2 separate regions of the Homo sapiens genome follow, and region 1 is reported to be linked to region 2. The links are microRNA targets in miRTarBase. Many come from high-throughput screens and were not tested one by one. Region 2 holds a microRNA gene; the other region holds the end of a gene's coding sequence.
The links. The annotated mature microRNA hsa-miR-6870-3p reads GCUCAUCCCCAUCUCCUUUCAG and lies in region 2 at 4,590-4,611, shown strand. An mRNA with a match to its seed (bases 2 to 7 or 8) in the 3' UTR can be bound and repressed. Matches are read on the target gene's strand: a 7mer-m8 pairs with bases 2 to 8, a 7mer-A1 pairs with bases 2 to 7 and ends in A, and an 8mer does both.

Region 1: miRTarBase lists ZNF195 as a target of hsa-miR-6870-3p. Seed matches in the 3' UTR shown: 8mer at 1,456-1,463.

What each region holds. Positions count from the first base shown.
Region 1 is chr11:3,352,540-3,360,128 of GRCh38, reverse strand. It overlaps ZNF195 (zinc finger protein 195), which reads left to right. Exons shown (of 6, transcript NM_001130520.3): 6 at 1-2,202. The coding sequence ends at 1,011. Among named protein-coding and RNA genes, the nearest start is that of ZNF195, 23 kb to the left of the region's middle.
Region 2 is chr20:10,646,000-10,654,246 of GRCh38, reverse strand. It overlaps MIR6870 (microRNA 6870), which reads left to right and starts at 4,552; the gene lies at 4,552-4,611. It overlaps JAG1 (jagged canonical Notch ligand 1), which reads left to right. Exons shown (of 26, transcript NM_000214.3): 6 at 1,649-1,779; 7 at 1,997-2,116; 8 at 2,553-2,666; 9 at 3,887-4,000; 10 at 4,612-4,725; 11 at 5,140-5,186; 12 at 5,525-5,698; 13 at 6,137-6,287; 14 at 7,144-7,308; 15 at 8,163-8,247. RefSeq lists silencers at 2,772-3,066, 6,531-6,580.

The DNA of each region.
Region 1 (7,589 bases), not on the chromosome of region 2:
GACACTGGAGAGAAACCTTACAAGTGTCAAGAATGTAACAACGTCATTAAAACTTGCTCAGTCCTTACTAAAAATAGAATTTATGCCGGAGGGGAACATTACAGATGTGAAGAATTTGGCAAAGTATTTAACCAGTGCTCCCACCTTACTGAACATGAGCATGGTACTGAGGAAAAACCCTGCAAATATGAAGAGTGCAGCAGTGTCTTTATCTCTTGCTCAAGCCTTTCTAATCAACAGATGATTCTTGCTGGAGAGAAGCTCTCCAAATGTGAAACATGGTACAAAGGTTTTAACCACAGCCCAAATCCTTCCAAACACCAGAGAAATGAGATTGGAGGGAAACCTTTCAAATGTGAGGAATGTGACAGCATCTTCAAGTGGTTCTCAGACCTTACTAAACATAAGAGAATTCACACTGGTGAGAAACCATACAAATGTGACGAATGTGGGAAAGCCTATACACAGTCCTCACACCTCAGTGAACACAGGAGGATTCACACCGGAGAGAAACCCTACCAATGTGAAGAATGTGGGAAGGTCTTCAGAACTTGCTCAAGCCTTTCTAACCATAAGAGAACTCATTCTGAAGAAAAACCCTACACGTGTGAAGAATGTGGCAACATCTTTAAGCAGTTATCAGACCTCACTAAGCATAAGAAAACCCATACTGGAGAGAAGCCCTACAAATGTGACGAATGTGGAAAAAACTTTACCCAGTCCTCCAACCTTATTGTACATAAGAGAATTCATACTGGAGAGAAACCCTACAAGTGTGAAGAATGTGGCAGAGTCTTCATGTGGTTCTCAGACATTACCAAACATAAGAAAACCCATACTGGAGAGAAACCCTACAAATGTGACGAATGTGGAAAAAACTTTACCCAGTCCTCAAACCTTATTGTACATAAGAGAATTCATACTGGAGAGAAACCCTACAAGTGTGAAAAGTGTGGCAAAGCCTTCACCCAGTTCTCACACCTGACTGTACATGAAAGCATTCATACTTGAGAAAAAAATAAACAAATATAAAAATAGGCAAAGCCGTTAGTATCTGCTCGCATCCCACTTTACATCAGAGTTCAGACTTAATAAAGTTATCATAAATGTAATTACTATTGAAAGACCTTTCATGAAATATAAGTCTCCAGAGCACACAAGAGTATTTCTTCTGAAAAAAATGTTACAATTATACTAGATGGAAGACTTGCATCAGTTGCTTAAACTTTCAGAAAATTTGTAGAGAAACCCAACAAATCTCATAAATGTGGAATAACATTTGTTCAAAAATGATAGCTTAGAAAACACTAGAGTTCATACTAAAAGATATTTTGCAAATACACTAAATGGGAAAAATAAGCAAGGACACGTTCAGAAATGACACTGAATCCCTGTGTTGAGTCTACAGAGACATCTAGACTTAAAATAGATCATTTATATTTAAGTTTAAAAGGAGGATGAGACTGAGTTTTTGTAGAGTTATAATTACATTCAAAATATACTTTTTTGCATTGAAAAAATGTTAAATTTTTGAAAAGCGAATATTGATGTCATTCTATTCTCAAATCAGTAGATGCTGTGTCTTCATTTCTAGTGCTGATGTGAAAACACATGGTCAGTTGTTGCTGCGTCAGAGATATGAGAAATTCTTTTCTCTTAGGTGTGCATCACTGATATACTTGTCCGTGAAAGGTGAAAGACACTGAAATGTAAGATGCGTGAGTAAAATCTTGGTAGAGAGGCTCTTTGTGGTTGTTTTATATACTTGTAAGTGATTTATGAGATAGGTGTTTAGAATAATACTCTTCTGTTAGGGTCACCCTGATCAGACCGTTCCCTTCCCCTCCCACAGGACTTACAATACGGTCCCTTGTGCTCTCTGCACAGCTACCCCAGGGCAAAAAACAAACCCCCCTTCACTGATCCCTCCAGTAACTGTGCAGACAGTTACAGGATGCGGTTAACATGTCTGTTCACCTCGCATAACAAAGCTGGCAAAAAACATCTCCAGGATGCAGACAAGACACCTGCACCCTCGACTAAGCTCCCCCACCCCAACCCAGTTCTCCTGCACCCCCAACTCAGCTCCCGCACCCCGACCTAGTTCTGGCCCTATAAAAACCTGCTATAGTCTGTAAGCAGGGCTGCCTCCTCTAACTGTGGTGGAGCAGCCAAGCAGCTCAATAAAGCTTGCTTGCCTGACTTTGGGTCTCTTCATCCTTTCTCTTGGCTGACCTTACATTTCTGGTGCCGAAACCCGGAAAGGTGATAGAGTTCGGCCTCCCTTTCTCCCTTTCTCTTTCTCTCCCTCCTTCCCCTGGCTGAACTCCCCCTTCCAGAACCTGCTAGAGACCCAAGGATCTCATACATACTTTCCATTGCTGGCGAACACATCCAACACCAGGGCCTCCTCAGGGTTGAGTAAAGGAGACTTTCGCCTTGTGTCTGGAACCCTTGTCTGCTCTTTCCTTCCTAAAAGACCCAGCACTGGGCCAAGGGTTTCCTCCTCCTGGCCTCCAGGAGGCCCTCGATATCTCCTATCAAGGATGCCTGAACTGGGGATTATCGCACTTCTCCGACTTGAACTGTGGGACAAGGGACGCGTTCTCCCACCATTCTAGTCTCCGGCCAAGTCTCCCATCTCTACCCCTCCCTTTCTCATTCCACTATGGGAGCCTTCCAATCCCCTCCCTCAAAGACATCCCCGCTTCGGGTGCCTCCTCCATCATAACCTTAATGCCCTTAGCCTCCATTCCGAAATTCAGCCAAAAAAAAACCTCATCTTTTATTGTAACACCGCCTGGCCACAATATAAACTAAACAATGGCTCCCAATGGCCTGAAAACGGCACTTTAAATTTCAACATTCTCAGGTACCTAGACAACTTCTGCCATCGCAATGGAAAGTGGTCAGAGATTCCTTATGTTCAGGCTTTCGTTTGCCCTCCATAGCCATCCCTCCCTCTGTCAGTCCTGCTCTACTTTCCAAATCCTCGCCTGCTCCAAACCTGACCCATCCTCAGACCCCCACCCCCGTCACCGCTCCTCCCAATGATTCTTCCTTCTTTGATCCTGCCAACTTTTCCCCAACAGCACCGTAATCCTCCCCCAAATCATCACAATCCTCCACCATACAATCCCGCTCCTGCCTTCGTTCTCTTCCTCTCTCCAACCACCCAGCTTCTGATTCTGATTCTTCCCCATCTCCACCTCATACCCGCTCTCAGACTCAGCATGCCCAACACTCGGCCCCCTTACTTCCCCTCTGAGAGGTGGCTGGGGCTAAAGGAGTCGTTCGCGTCCACATTCCCTTCTCCCTCTCTTAACCTTTCGCAAATTAAGAAACATCTCAGGTCCTTTTCCTCCAATCCTGACACTTATATCAAAAAGCTCAAATACCTCACCCAATCTTACAGACTCACTTGGCATGATCTCTATATTATCCTCTCTTATACTCTCCTCCCAGAAAAAAAAAAAAAGAAAAGAAAAGAGTGGCTTGCAGCTCAGGCATGCCAATGATCTTCATCCACAAGACCGTACTAAGCCCATAGGGGCTGCTGCAGTTTCCTGGGAAAAACCCTCCCGGGAGTACCAACCCACAGACCCCAGCCGGGCATCTCATAACCACATGATCACTTGCCTTATCTCAGGTCTTAATAAAGCTGCCCATAAGGCTGTAACTTTGAAAAGCTCAAAAAAGTCTCCCAAAGGGCCGACAAAAATCCCACCAAATTTCTTTCCCACCTTACAGAGGCCCTCCAAAAATACACCCATGTTAACCCCACCTCCCAGGAAGGTCTGCTTCTGACTTATGGCGCAAGCTCAAAAAGGTAGAAGACAGCCCTCAAACCCCTCAACGAGACCTCCTTAACCTGGCCTTTAAGGTCTTCAGCAACAGAGATGAGCAAAATAAATTAGATAAAGCCCAAGGAGATTGTGCCAAGTACCAGCTCCTAGCAGCAGCTATTTGTCAGCCTACTCGGGCTGCCCAGGGGCACAATAGACCCCATAGCAGTGACCCTCCTGGGCCCTGTTTTAAGTGCTGCAAAGAAGGTCACTGGGCCCGAGCATGCCCTAACCCATGATTGCCAAAAACTCCTTGCCCAGCCTGCCAACAAACTGGTCACTGGAAGTCTGATTGTCCTCTTAACAAGCAGACTAACAGGCCGGTTCCTCAAGGCCCTGGCAAAACGAAGAGTGAAGAGTCACTCCCACTCCCACAGCTCCTTGTCCTGGCCACTGAAGATTGACAGAGCCCAGGGCCCCCGGCCCCATCTGCCGTCACTGCATCGGAACCCAGGGTAACTCTGCTAATGGCAGGTAAGCCAGTCTCTTTCTTAATTGATAGTGGGGCCACCTACTTGGTTTTACCTGAATCTTTAGGACCCACTTGCCCTTCCCAGGTCTCTGTTGTAGGGGTTGATGGACTGGTCTGGTGTCCACGTGCTACTGAATTATTTATTTGTTCCCTGTTTAATACTGCTTTTTCACACTCCTTCCTTATCATGCCTCATTGCCCCACCCCAATGCTAGGCCAAGACATTTTAACCAAATTCAAAGCTTCTATCATGTTTTCCTGTCCCCCTCAACCAGAGTCCCTCCTGCTCCTCTCTGCTAGTCTGGCCCCTGAACCCCACTCCCCAGCACCCGCTACCCGCCTCCCTCATTAACCCAGTAGTGTGGGACACCATCACCCCTTCCATAGCTGCTCACCAGGACCTCATCAAAATCCAGTTAAAAGACCCCTCTAAATTTCCCAACATTCCCCAATACCCCACTTCCCTAACACACCAAAGGACTTACAACCCATCATAAGCTCTGCTCACACAGTCGTCTTAGACCAACACTCCATATAACAACCCCATCCTCCCTATTAAAAAATCTGACAGCTCATACCAACTCGTTCAGGACCTCCGAGTTATCAATCAGGCTGTCCTCCCTATTCATCCTGTAGTCCCTAACCCCTATACACTTCTCCCTCTCATCCCCTCCAGCACCACCCACTACACCACAATTGACCTGAAAGATGCCTTCTTCACCATTCCCCTACACCCCGATTCCCAAAACCTCTTTGCTTTCACCCAGACTGACCCCAACACCCTCCAGTCACAACAACTCACGTGGACTGTCCTCCCTCAGGGCTTCCAGGATAGCCTTCTTTTCTTCGGGCAAGCCCTAGCCCAAGACCTTGCCTCCTTGGATCTTTCCCCCAGCCGCCTTCTTCAATATCTAGATGACCTCCTTCTCTGTAGCCCCTCCCTAAAAAACTCCCAAACTCACACTGCCACCCTTCTGAATTTCCTTACTAATAAAGGCTATAGGGTCTCCCCTCTAAAGAACAGCTTTCCACCCCTACCGGGACCTACTTAGGAGTTCAACCTTCCCCCAGGTCTCGAGCCATGACCCCGGCATGGGCAGCCTTAATAGACAGTCTATCTCCACCTTCTTCAAAAAACTAAATCCTTTCCTTCCTAGGGCTAACAGGCTTTTTAAAAATATGGATTCCCAACTTTGCCCCCCTAGCTCACCCCCTTTATAAAGCAGCCAAAGGCCCCCTCAATAAACTCCTAAACTCCTCACATAACATACTCCCCAACTTCCGCAAACTCCAAACCACTCTTATCACTGCACCGGCTCTGTCCTTACCTAATATCTCCCAACCTTTCACTCTCTATACTGCCAAAAAACCAAAGAATAGCCCTTGGTGTCTTAAGACAACAAAAATAAAATCCTCCTTCCTTTTCTCCTGTAGCCTGCCTCTCTGAACAACTCAACAACACAGTCAAAGGGTGGCCAACCTGTCTTACAGTACAGCAGCAGCAGCAGTTTTAGCTCTAGAAAGCAAGATGCTAACATTCAGCCCAAATACCACCATCTACAGTCCTCATAATCTACATCTCCTCTCCTCCCAAGCATTAAGTTCTCCTCCTCCTTCCCAGATTCAATTACTCCATGCCCTCTTTATCAAAAATCCCAAATTCTGCCTTGCCAAAAGTGCTCCCCTCAACCCAGCATCCTTACTCCCCATATCCTCTTCCCTTCCTACTCATTCTTGCACTGACATCCTAGACCACCAGCAGCCACACTTCCCAAACATTTCCTCCAAGCGTCTCGCCAACCCCAATGACCAGCTATTCATAGATGGCTCCTCTTCCAGGCCCGCTGGCTCCTCCAGAATTGCTGGATATGCAGTTGTTTCTCTTGACCAAGTAATTAAAGCCAGGCCCCTACCTTCAGGAACCTCCCCCAAAAAAGCAGAACTTACAGCTCTCACCAGAGCCCTAACCCTTTCCAAAGGCAAACAAGTCAACATTTATACAAACTCCAAAGATGCCTATCACATCCTTCATTCCCACGCTGCCATCTGGCAAAAGAGGATTCCTTACTGCCAAAGGAACCCTCATCACTAACAGCTCCCCTTATTTACCAGCTACTTCAGGCTGCACACCTTCCAACCAAAGCAGGACATCAAACAGGTTCAAATAAAATCTCAAAAAGAAGCACGAAAGCTGATAAGGCAGCAAAGAAGCTCTCCCTTTCTTCTCCCCCTGGCTCTCTCCTCCTCATTACCCCTACAATCCAACCCCAGAATTCCCCACTAAAAAAAGGGCTCACTACTACAACAAGGAACCTCCTTCGAAAGCAACTAGATAATCAAAAACTCATCCTCCACCAAAAACAAACCAAAAAAAAAAAAAAAATTCTAACATCCCTTCACCAATCTTTCCACGTTGGTGTGCACCCCCCGTACCTTCTCCTTTGCCTATATTTCTCTTCCCCCGACCTATTTACCTTATTAAAAAACATAACCTCAAACTGTCATATATGCTCTGTCACTTCCTCCCAAGGGACCCTCCGCTCTCCATCTATTCCTACACACCAGTTAAGAGGATCCTCATTATCATATTTCCAGGCACTCTCTACAGACTTACAGGCTTTCCTGAAAAAAAAAAAATTGTAGACTATTACCCACCTCCAAAACCAACTAGACTCCCTAGCAGCAGTTACCCTACAAAACCGCAAAGGCCTTGATTTGCTTACTGCAGAAAAAGGAAGTCTCTGGATCTTCCTAGATGAGGAATGCTGCTTCTATTTCAATCAGTCAGGCCTGGTTCAGGGTGCAGTCAAACAACTAAAAGACCAAGCCCTCCCCCGCACTCACAGAAAAAAGAAAAATCACCTCCTCTGCCTGGCCCTCTTGGCCCCCTTGGTCTCTCAGCTCTTAGGCCTCCTGGTTACTCCCACTCCTAGGACCCGTCCTAACCATTCTCCTTCCAGTCTTTGGGCCCTGCCTCTTACGTCTCTGTACCCAGTTTTTACGGAACCGCGTCCGAGCTTTCACCCACGGAACCATGAAAGACATGACGCTACTGCAAGAATACCGGCAATTTCAAAACCAGTACCAGGACCAACCCCTACCTTCCAGCCTTCCCCCTAAACACTGCCCCCTCTCAGCTTGAAGTAGCCAGGCGAAAAATGGCGTCCCCTTTCCTATCATCGATTAAAAGGCTAAAATGTTAGGGTCGCCCCGACCAGACCACTCCCTTCCCCTCCCACAGGCCTTACAATACAGTCCTTTGCGCTCTCCGC
Region 2 (8,247 bases):
CTTTAATTAGGTGAGGTTGGGTCCTCAGCTGCCTCTCCTTGCCTTTATGAGGCAACTTGAAGAGGGCTAGTGATCCTGAATTTGGAAGAGAATAAGGGAAGACGGTGAGAATATTGCCATTTCGTAATCAGTTCCCTCTTACTATCTTTCAGGCTAAGAATATCAGCCTTGACAGAATGGCTACACCCTTACCTCCCACTAACGTGGGTGTCCGCTTTTGAGAAATTATTTAGATTGTAATTTTGTTCTTATCTTACTCCTTTAGTCACTTGTCACGTTGACATTCCATTTTACATAAACCAGAATCCAGTGTCTAACTTTAAACCACACATTCTAGTGATTTCTTTGCATGTGGGTGTGCATAGCTTGGTTTCAGAAGTTAGGAAGTGGTTAGTCAGTATTCTCAGGGGTTAAGTTGACTCTCAGCCGTGGGTGATTAGCTATTAGCTAGATCCCTATAATTTTCCCATGACAAGGATTTGCTAGCCTGCCTCCCGCTCTTGGGAAACCGAAAGCCTTTCCTTCTGGGGAGCTAGAGGGGGCGGGGGTTGTTTTCCAGAGTTACAGCTGAGCAGCTTAGGGGGTTGGCGCTGATCGTGGCTTTTCCCAGGTCCCGTTCTGGAAACATGTTGCCCATCCCACCCGCACCCCACCCTCCACCCTCCACCCTCCACGCTCCACCGGGAGGCTAGTTGATGTTTCTCCCTGCCTTCCCCCACCCTTGTTAAAGCTTGGCTCTTGAGAAGGCAATTAAAGTTTCAGAGGGCTTGAAAATTCAAGGGAGAGTGGTTTGAGACGCTGCCCCCTCTCCCACCCCAGATGAAAGTTGTTGTATTTGTTTTTGTTTTTGCTTGGGGATCAGAGGCACTATTTGGCCCCAAAAGAGTATGATTAATCAAGGTGCTTATATAAAAGAACCTCAACTCCGCCAATACTAGATAAATTAAGCAGACTGCTTTCTTTTTTTTTTCTTTTCTTGGCAAAGCAAGAAATCACTATAAATTAGCACACAGTAATGGGACACAAATTATGGAGTTGGTTCCAAGTGTTGTCATTTCCTTCTCCTTCCCTATAGAAGTGGGTTTAGAGAGCCTACTCTGGCTTTGGCCAAGGGAGGGTGCCCCTTTCTCTCCTTGTTTTTTTAAATAAAGCGTCATCGTGAGGCAGTTTCCTGCTGCACTTGGTGGCTTGTTGCATTTCTGTGCACTGGGGTCATGACTTTCTGTGCAGACAAAGAGCAGAGTGGCAAGTGCAGCGTCTGCAGAGACTTTGGCATAGCTCTCTTGTCACCGAGAGAGTCCTTTCCTCTATAGTCTGTCGCAACTAGGTGCACGGGTTGATTTATTCCATGCCTTCACCTTTGGCTCACTCGTGTGAGCCTGAGAAGAGAGTGGCTTTGTGAAGGGCATCCCCATGCTGGCCTCTTCCCAAACAGCCCTCCTTTTGTCAGGAGTCGGCTGGGAGGGGACCTCAGCTCAACTGTGAAAATGTTTGTTTATACGGAGCCCCTGATGAGCCTTGGGAGTCTACCTTCCTGTCCCCAGAAACAAAACAGAAAAAGCCTGGACTTTGCAGTCTTCCATTTGAATTGTACAGGTGTCTCTTAACGTTCAAAAGGCTAACCTGGAGGTGTGCTGTGTGTCTCCAGGTGCCAGTACGGCTGGCAAGGCCTGTACTGTGATAAGTGCATCCCACACCCGGGATGCGTCCACGGCATCTGTAATGAGCCCTGGCAGTGCCTCTGTGAGACCAACTGGGGCGGCCAGCTCTGTGACAAAGGTATGGCCCTTAGGGATGAGACCCAGGGTGGGATCTGGGGGTGGGATGGCACTAATTTGGTTTCTAATTTTATTGGCAGGGGCTTTTATTCTGAATTCTCCTTGAATGCTGTGTGGGTTTTCTGGTTTTTCTTTTTAAAAGACGACTGGGGCTAGAAACATGGTGGGTTCGCCATCTTCACAGGCGTCTCTTAGTGACTCCAGGATCTTTTTGGCAGATCTCAATTACTGTGGGACTCATCAGCCGTGTCTCAACGGGGGAACTTGTAGCAACACAGGCCCTGACAAATATCAGTGTTCCTGCCCTGAGGGGTATTCAGGACCCAACTGTGAAATTGGTAAGTGGTCCAAGATGAATGAGAGCCCTTTGTCTAATTTTTCTGTACTCAGCTTTTAAAAAATATACTTAAGGACTTGTTTAAGGAAAAAAAAGTGAAAATAGCTTCCAAAGATAGGCCTTATCCCAACCATTCTATAAGCCTTTGTAACTTTCAAGTCTCTAAAGTTTTTTGGGTGATGCTGATTCGTATAGGAGGCAGCGGGAGATGAAATGACCCCAGCTCTGAGATGTCTTGGAATGTGGTTAGAGACAGCTCAGCGAGAAAGATGACTTCCTTTCTTTCCTAGACACAGCAGGGTTCTATCACACGCTTGCTTTTGGTTTTTGAAATATGCTTGCACTAGTGGCTGTGGTGTGGGATTCGGTTGGAGGGGGGTGTGGGGAGGTAACGGTGTGCAGGCATCCCTCTCTGACTGCCATCCTGGTTTTTGCAGCTGAGCACGCCTGCCTCTCTGATCCCTGTCACAACAGAGGCAGCTGTAAGGAGACCTCCCTGGGCTTTGAGTGTGAGTGTTCCCCAGGCTGGACCGGCCCCACATGCTCTACAAGTAAGTCCAATTTTCAGCCTGTGTCCATTCTAAGGATCCTTGTGCCAAGATACCACGCTGGGGAGAGGTACCTAGGCTTGTCCAGTGTGAATGTCTCGGTGAGAGAGGGGCGGGTGCAGGCCTAAGTCTGGTAAGCAGTCTGGTGGCTTGTGTGTTTGGAAGTCTCCCAGCACCCCCATCCTGTCCCACTAAGGTAGCGCATGTATCTGTTCTTGGAAGGAACGTCCTCGTGGAATCGCTTGTTCCTTTGCATCTGCTTCCTGGAGCTGGCCACCTTCCAATTGTGGTTATTCTTCTTGCAGCCATGGAGAGGCTGCCTTCAGGGGAGGTTGTCACTTACTACTGGATTCTGTCATAGGGCCAGGGGGCCCCAGAGAAGAACCTGGCCTGCAGAGTTCCTTTGGCTGTGAGACAGGGCTGTATATCAGAATCACCTGGGCTGCTTTACAGTGTAAATCTCTGGGTCCCCCAGATTCCCTCCAGAATCGGGGAGTCCATGGTCTTTGATAAACTTCTGGAATTCTGCAGTGCAGCCAGGTCTGAGAACCGCTGTCATCAGCACCCCAGGTGTGGTTATGGATGTGGATTTCTGGGGTCAGATTGCCTGTGCTGGTCCTAGGCCCCCACCTGTCACTTGCGGAACTCCAGCAGGCCACAGAAGCTCCCCGGGCCCTCTTTAAATGGCACAGTAGCAATTCCCATCTCCGAGGTTGTCATAAAGACACAAAAGTGAATACTTCATAAATTGTTAGGAGTTGTCTCTGGTCAGAGCAGAAGTGGAGAATGCAGCCTCTAGGTGTGCTATTTTGGGCAAACTCTGTAAGCAAATGAGAGGAATAAGGTTTTCCACCTGTAAAGAACTATTTTTCCTGACTTCTTAGCTACTTCTGAGCCATGATGAAACTTTTCTTTAAAAATAAAGATTAGGCAGATAGAGATGTCCTGTGTTCCTCCTGGGCGGATGCTCCGTCAGTATCCAGCTGTCTTTCTCCCCCACTGCTTAGGTTGGGGATTACATGAACTGGGGCAGTGGGGGATTTAAAGCTAAAATCAAGGCTTCGGCCTTATCGTCACCGTCCCACTTGTCCTGCTGTAGCTTTCCTTGTAGCAGGTGTCTGGCTCTTCAATGACAGCCCCTCATGTAAGAGGTGATGTTAAAGGATCTAATTGTCAGATGGATTGAATTAAATTGTCAACCCCCTCCTTTTCTTGTTGACCAGACATTGATGACTGTTCTCCTAATAACTGTTCCCACGGGGGCACCTGCCAGGACCTGGTTAACGGATTTAAGTGTGTGTGCCCCCCACAGTGGACTGGGAAAACGTGCCAGTTAGGTAAGAACATCCCTGTGACTGTAATTTTTATACCAAGGTTGGCTTTGATTGTCAAAGCCATTACAGAAGACGAGCGTGTGGCCGGCAGTGTGAGTTCACACTCCATCATGCTAAGAAGTAATTTATTATCAAGAGTCTAGCAGGCCTGGGAGAAATAACTTGAATGCAAATGGACTAGCTCTTTTAGGCCCTGTGGGAAAGTCGTGGGATTCCTTGAACCATGTCAATCGTCTGTCCGAGGAGTGTTCAGCTGGGTTCCAAAAGGGGATGATCTCATGAGGAATGAGCTGTCTGCATTCTTTTTGCCACATTTAAATCCCAGCAACTAGGCTGCCTGGGTTTTGCACAGAAATGCCTGGTGGCTTTCTGCTGTTTTGTTGGGGGCTGGTTAACTAGCAGCTGGAAAGTTATCAATTAGGGTTCTTATTGGATAATAGCTAGGGAGAGGGATCAGATGCTTAAAATAGAGGGAACCTCTAGTATCTTTTATTTAGCTAGCTTATTAAAATGTCTCATGTCTCAGACAAACTCTGGCCTGTTCTTTTTTTTTCCAAGGTGGGGGAGATGGGGGTTGAACTTCATTTCTCATGCTCATCCCCATCTCCTTTCAGATGCAAATGAATGTGAGGCCAAACCTTGTGTAAACGCCAAATCCTGTAAGAATCTCATTGCCAGCTACTACTGCGACTGTCTTCCCGGCTGGATGGGTCAGAATTGTGACATAAGTGAGTGACTTTGTTTCCATTTTGATTTTCATGAAACTTGGGTAGCCGACTTGCTGGTCCGTACTGGGGCTCCAGTCCTAGGACTTGAGCAGTAGAAGGAAAACCTTAGAGTGGGAATGGTTTTTTGAGAGGGAGTGGTCAGGGCAGCAGTGAAAACATACACTTTATCAGGCTCATTAGCTGCGAAAACCAGCCATATTCTGATAATGTGGCTGAAACAATGATGTGAAGTTTCACTCCCTCATTCTGGAAGAATTAGGGAGGGTCCCCACCCAGCGTAATAACCTTATCTCACGGAAAGCACACAGGAAATCTGATTTGAAACTTATCTATCCTGAGCTGAGAAGGCTTTTCAATTAAGCCCAATTTCACTGTAAATTACCTCTTTAAAATGATGACTTATTTATTTTTTAGATATTAATGACTGCCTTGGCCAGTGTCAGAATGACGCCTCCTGTCGGGTATGTAAATCTTTGCTTAAATCAAAACTTTGACAATTGACAACAAATCTTTAGATTTGTGCGACACTAGGAGAGCTCTGTCCCTGTGAGATTTAAAAATTTGGGTGAAAAAAGAGTCTCTTGGAAGTTTCGCTAGGGCTTATGTTACCCCAGCCTCGTGGGAGTCATTTTGAAGGCATGCACATAGAAATTCCTCTAACCACTTTCAGAGGTTTAGCATTTGGCTATTTCAGTGAACCAGCTAAACCGCAACAGTCATGCTAAACCGCTGAAGCCCTGTGTTTGTGGAATACATAGAAAAAAAGCATGTGTCTCTCTCTCCCCTTCTCCTCTTCTAGGATTTGGTTAATGGTTATCGCTGTATCTGTCCACCTGGCTATGCAGGCGATCACTGTGAGAGAGACATCGATGAATGTGCCAGCAACCCCTGTTTGAATGGGGGTCACTGTCAGAATGAAATCAACAGATTCCAGTGTCTGTGTCCCACTGGTTTCTCTGGAAACCTCTGTCAGGTGAGTGGTGGCAAAACCTCAGATGGCCAAGTTTTTAGAGCAGAGCCGCTGCCTCCTCCGCTTCCCTTTACTTTTCCCTCAGCTCTTGTGTCTGGAATTTCCTAACATCTATTAACATCCTATTGATGAGAGAGTCTCTGCTAGACAAATGCTGGTGGAAGGAGATACTGACGAATTATTTTCTTCTTAGTGTCTTCGTCTTTGTGTTCTTTTTGGTTCCCTCCACCCCCTCTTGTGCTCCCTCTCCCACTCTGCCCCGTTGTTTCAAATACTGGACATTGGCAGTCCCTACAGCATAGAGATGTATCTTACAGGGTGTCTCCTAATAGAAACCGAAGGAACTGTCAGATTCCAGTGCCTGCTGCCCCAGAGAAGTTATCGTGACACCTTTGTTTTACTCTGATCCCTCCCCCTTTTCGCTGTTCCTGATATTTGCAGCTGGACATCGATTATTGTGAGCCTAATCCCTGCCAGAACGGTGCCCAGTGCTACAACCGTGCCAGTGACTATTTCTGCAAGTGCCCCGAGGACTATGAGGGCAAGAACTGCTCACACCTGAAAGACCACTGCCGCACGACCCCCTGTGAAGGTACCTCCCTTCTCCCGGGACCTGGCTGTCTCCAGACTTGCTCCTTTTGTCCCCACTTACTACCACTGCCCCTTGTTACACTTGAGAAGTAATGTATTGGTGAGGAGGACCTCTATAGTGAAATGATCCTGCCTGTGTAGCGGGCCGCAACACGTGGAAACAATCTATTCCGGCCTGCCAGTGGGAGAGCCGTGTCTACAAGTAGCCCAGGGGAGAGAATGTGAAATCCATTTAGCATTCCTGTTCTGGGGTGGGCTGATGTGCAACGCTGAGGCAAATGCCTGAGAACAACACTGTCAACAGAACTTCCTGCAACGGCAGACAGAGGGGGATGTTCTGTATCTGCACGGTCAGGTATGGGAGCCCCAGGCCATGTGGACTGTGACTAGTGTAACTAGAAACTGATTTTATTTCATTTTAGTTCATTTAAATGTAAATAGCCACATGTGGCCGGTGGCTGCTGTATTAGGCAGCACAACATTTAAAGCTTCTATAAGATTGTCCTTGAGCCTTGCTTAAGATCAAAAAGGAAGTAAATAAAGCAGGTCCTTTTGCCTTAGCAAGTGTTTACCAAATTGGGTAGATGTCAAAGGTAGGATGAAGGGGATCCACAAGCATGTGGGTTTTCCTGGTTGTGTGGAGGGAGAAAATGCTTTAAAACTCTTTGCCTGGAGTCTCAACTTTGCCTGTCATAATGTGATGTGGCACGTTGCCAGTATCTTGGCTTCCCTGGGGTGTGTCTCATTAGCCAGAGGGTCCCTGTCTCCAGGAAAGTGGGCTTGGCCCAGGCCCTTGGCTTAGGAATGCCGCATCTGTGGGTGCATGGCTGTGATCTGATCCCAAGCCTATCTTCTAGTGATTGACAGCTGCACAGTGGCCATGGCTTCCAACGACACACCTGAAGGGGTGCGGTATATTTCCTCCAACGTCTGTGGTCCTCACGGGAAGTGCAAGAGTCAGTCGGGAGGCAAATTCACCTGTGACTGTAACAAAGGCTTCACGGGAACATACTGCCATGAAAGTAAGACTCCCTCATCCGGGAATGGACCAGTGCTCCCCAGCCTGCCCCTGCCCCTGCCTCTGCCCCTGGCCCACCCTGGGATCATTGGTGTTGAAAGTTTTTTTTTTTTTTTTGAGACCGAATTTCGCTGTTGTTGCCCAGGCTAGAGTGCAGTGGCACGATCTCGGCTCACCACAACCTCGGCCTCCCAGGTTCAAGCGATTCTCCTGCCTGCCTCAGCCTTCCTGAGTAGCTGGGATTACAGGCATGCGCACCACGCCCACCACGCCCAGCTAATTTTGTATTTTTAGTAGAGATGGGGTTTCCCCATGTTGGTCAGGCTGGTCTCGAACTCCCAGCCTCAGATGATCCACCCCCCGACCCCCAACTTGGCCTCCCAAAGTGCTGGGATTACAGGTGTGAGCCACCATGCCCAGCAGTGTTGAAATTGTTTTAATCAGAAACAGTAAGGCTGGGGAGACTGGTTGAGACTTATCCTTACATCTGGGATCTAAGACTGAGGTCGTGTTCAATTTACCAGATCACTCTGCCTCGGAGCCTCCATATCTATGTTGGAACATTCTGGAATGTTGCTAGGTTGGGTGATTCCTCTTTTCTGTAGGAGTTTCTTCCCCACTTTCACCTAGTACCGGTGACTAAATGCCCATGTGAGGGCATTAAGTGGGTAAGGCACTCTCTGGAAGCTTCTGCTTGATAAGCCGCCTGTCTAATTTGAGAAACAGCCCTGATGGAGGGTAGCAGGTGGAGGTGCCAGGTGCATTGTGTCAGGAGGGAGCCATGAAAACTGCTGAACAGTGCTTGTCTATGGCTTCACAAGTCCTTCAGTTCTTTTTTTGCTTTACTTTGTTTCATAGATATTAATGACTGTGAGAGCAACCCTTGTAGAAACGGTGGCACTTGCATCGATGGTGTCAACTCCTACAAGTGCATCTGTAGTGA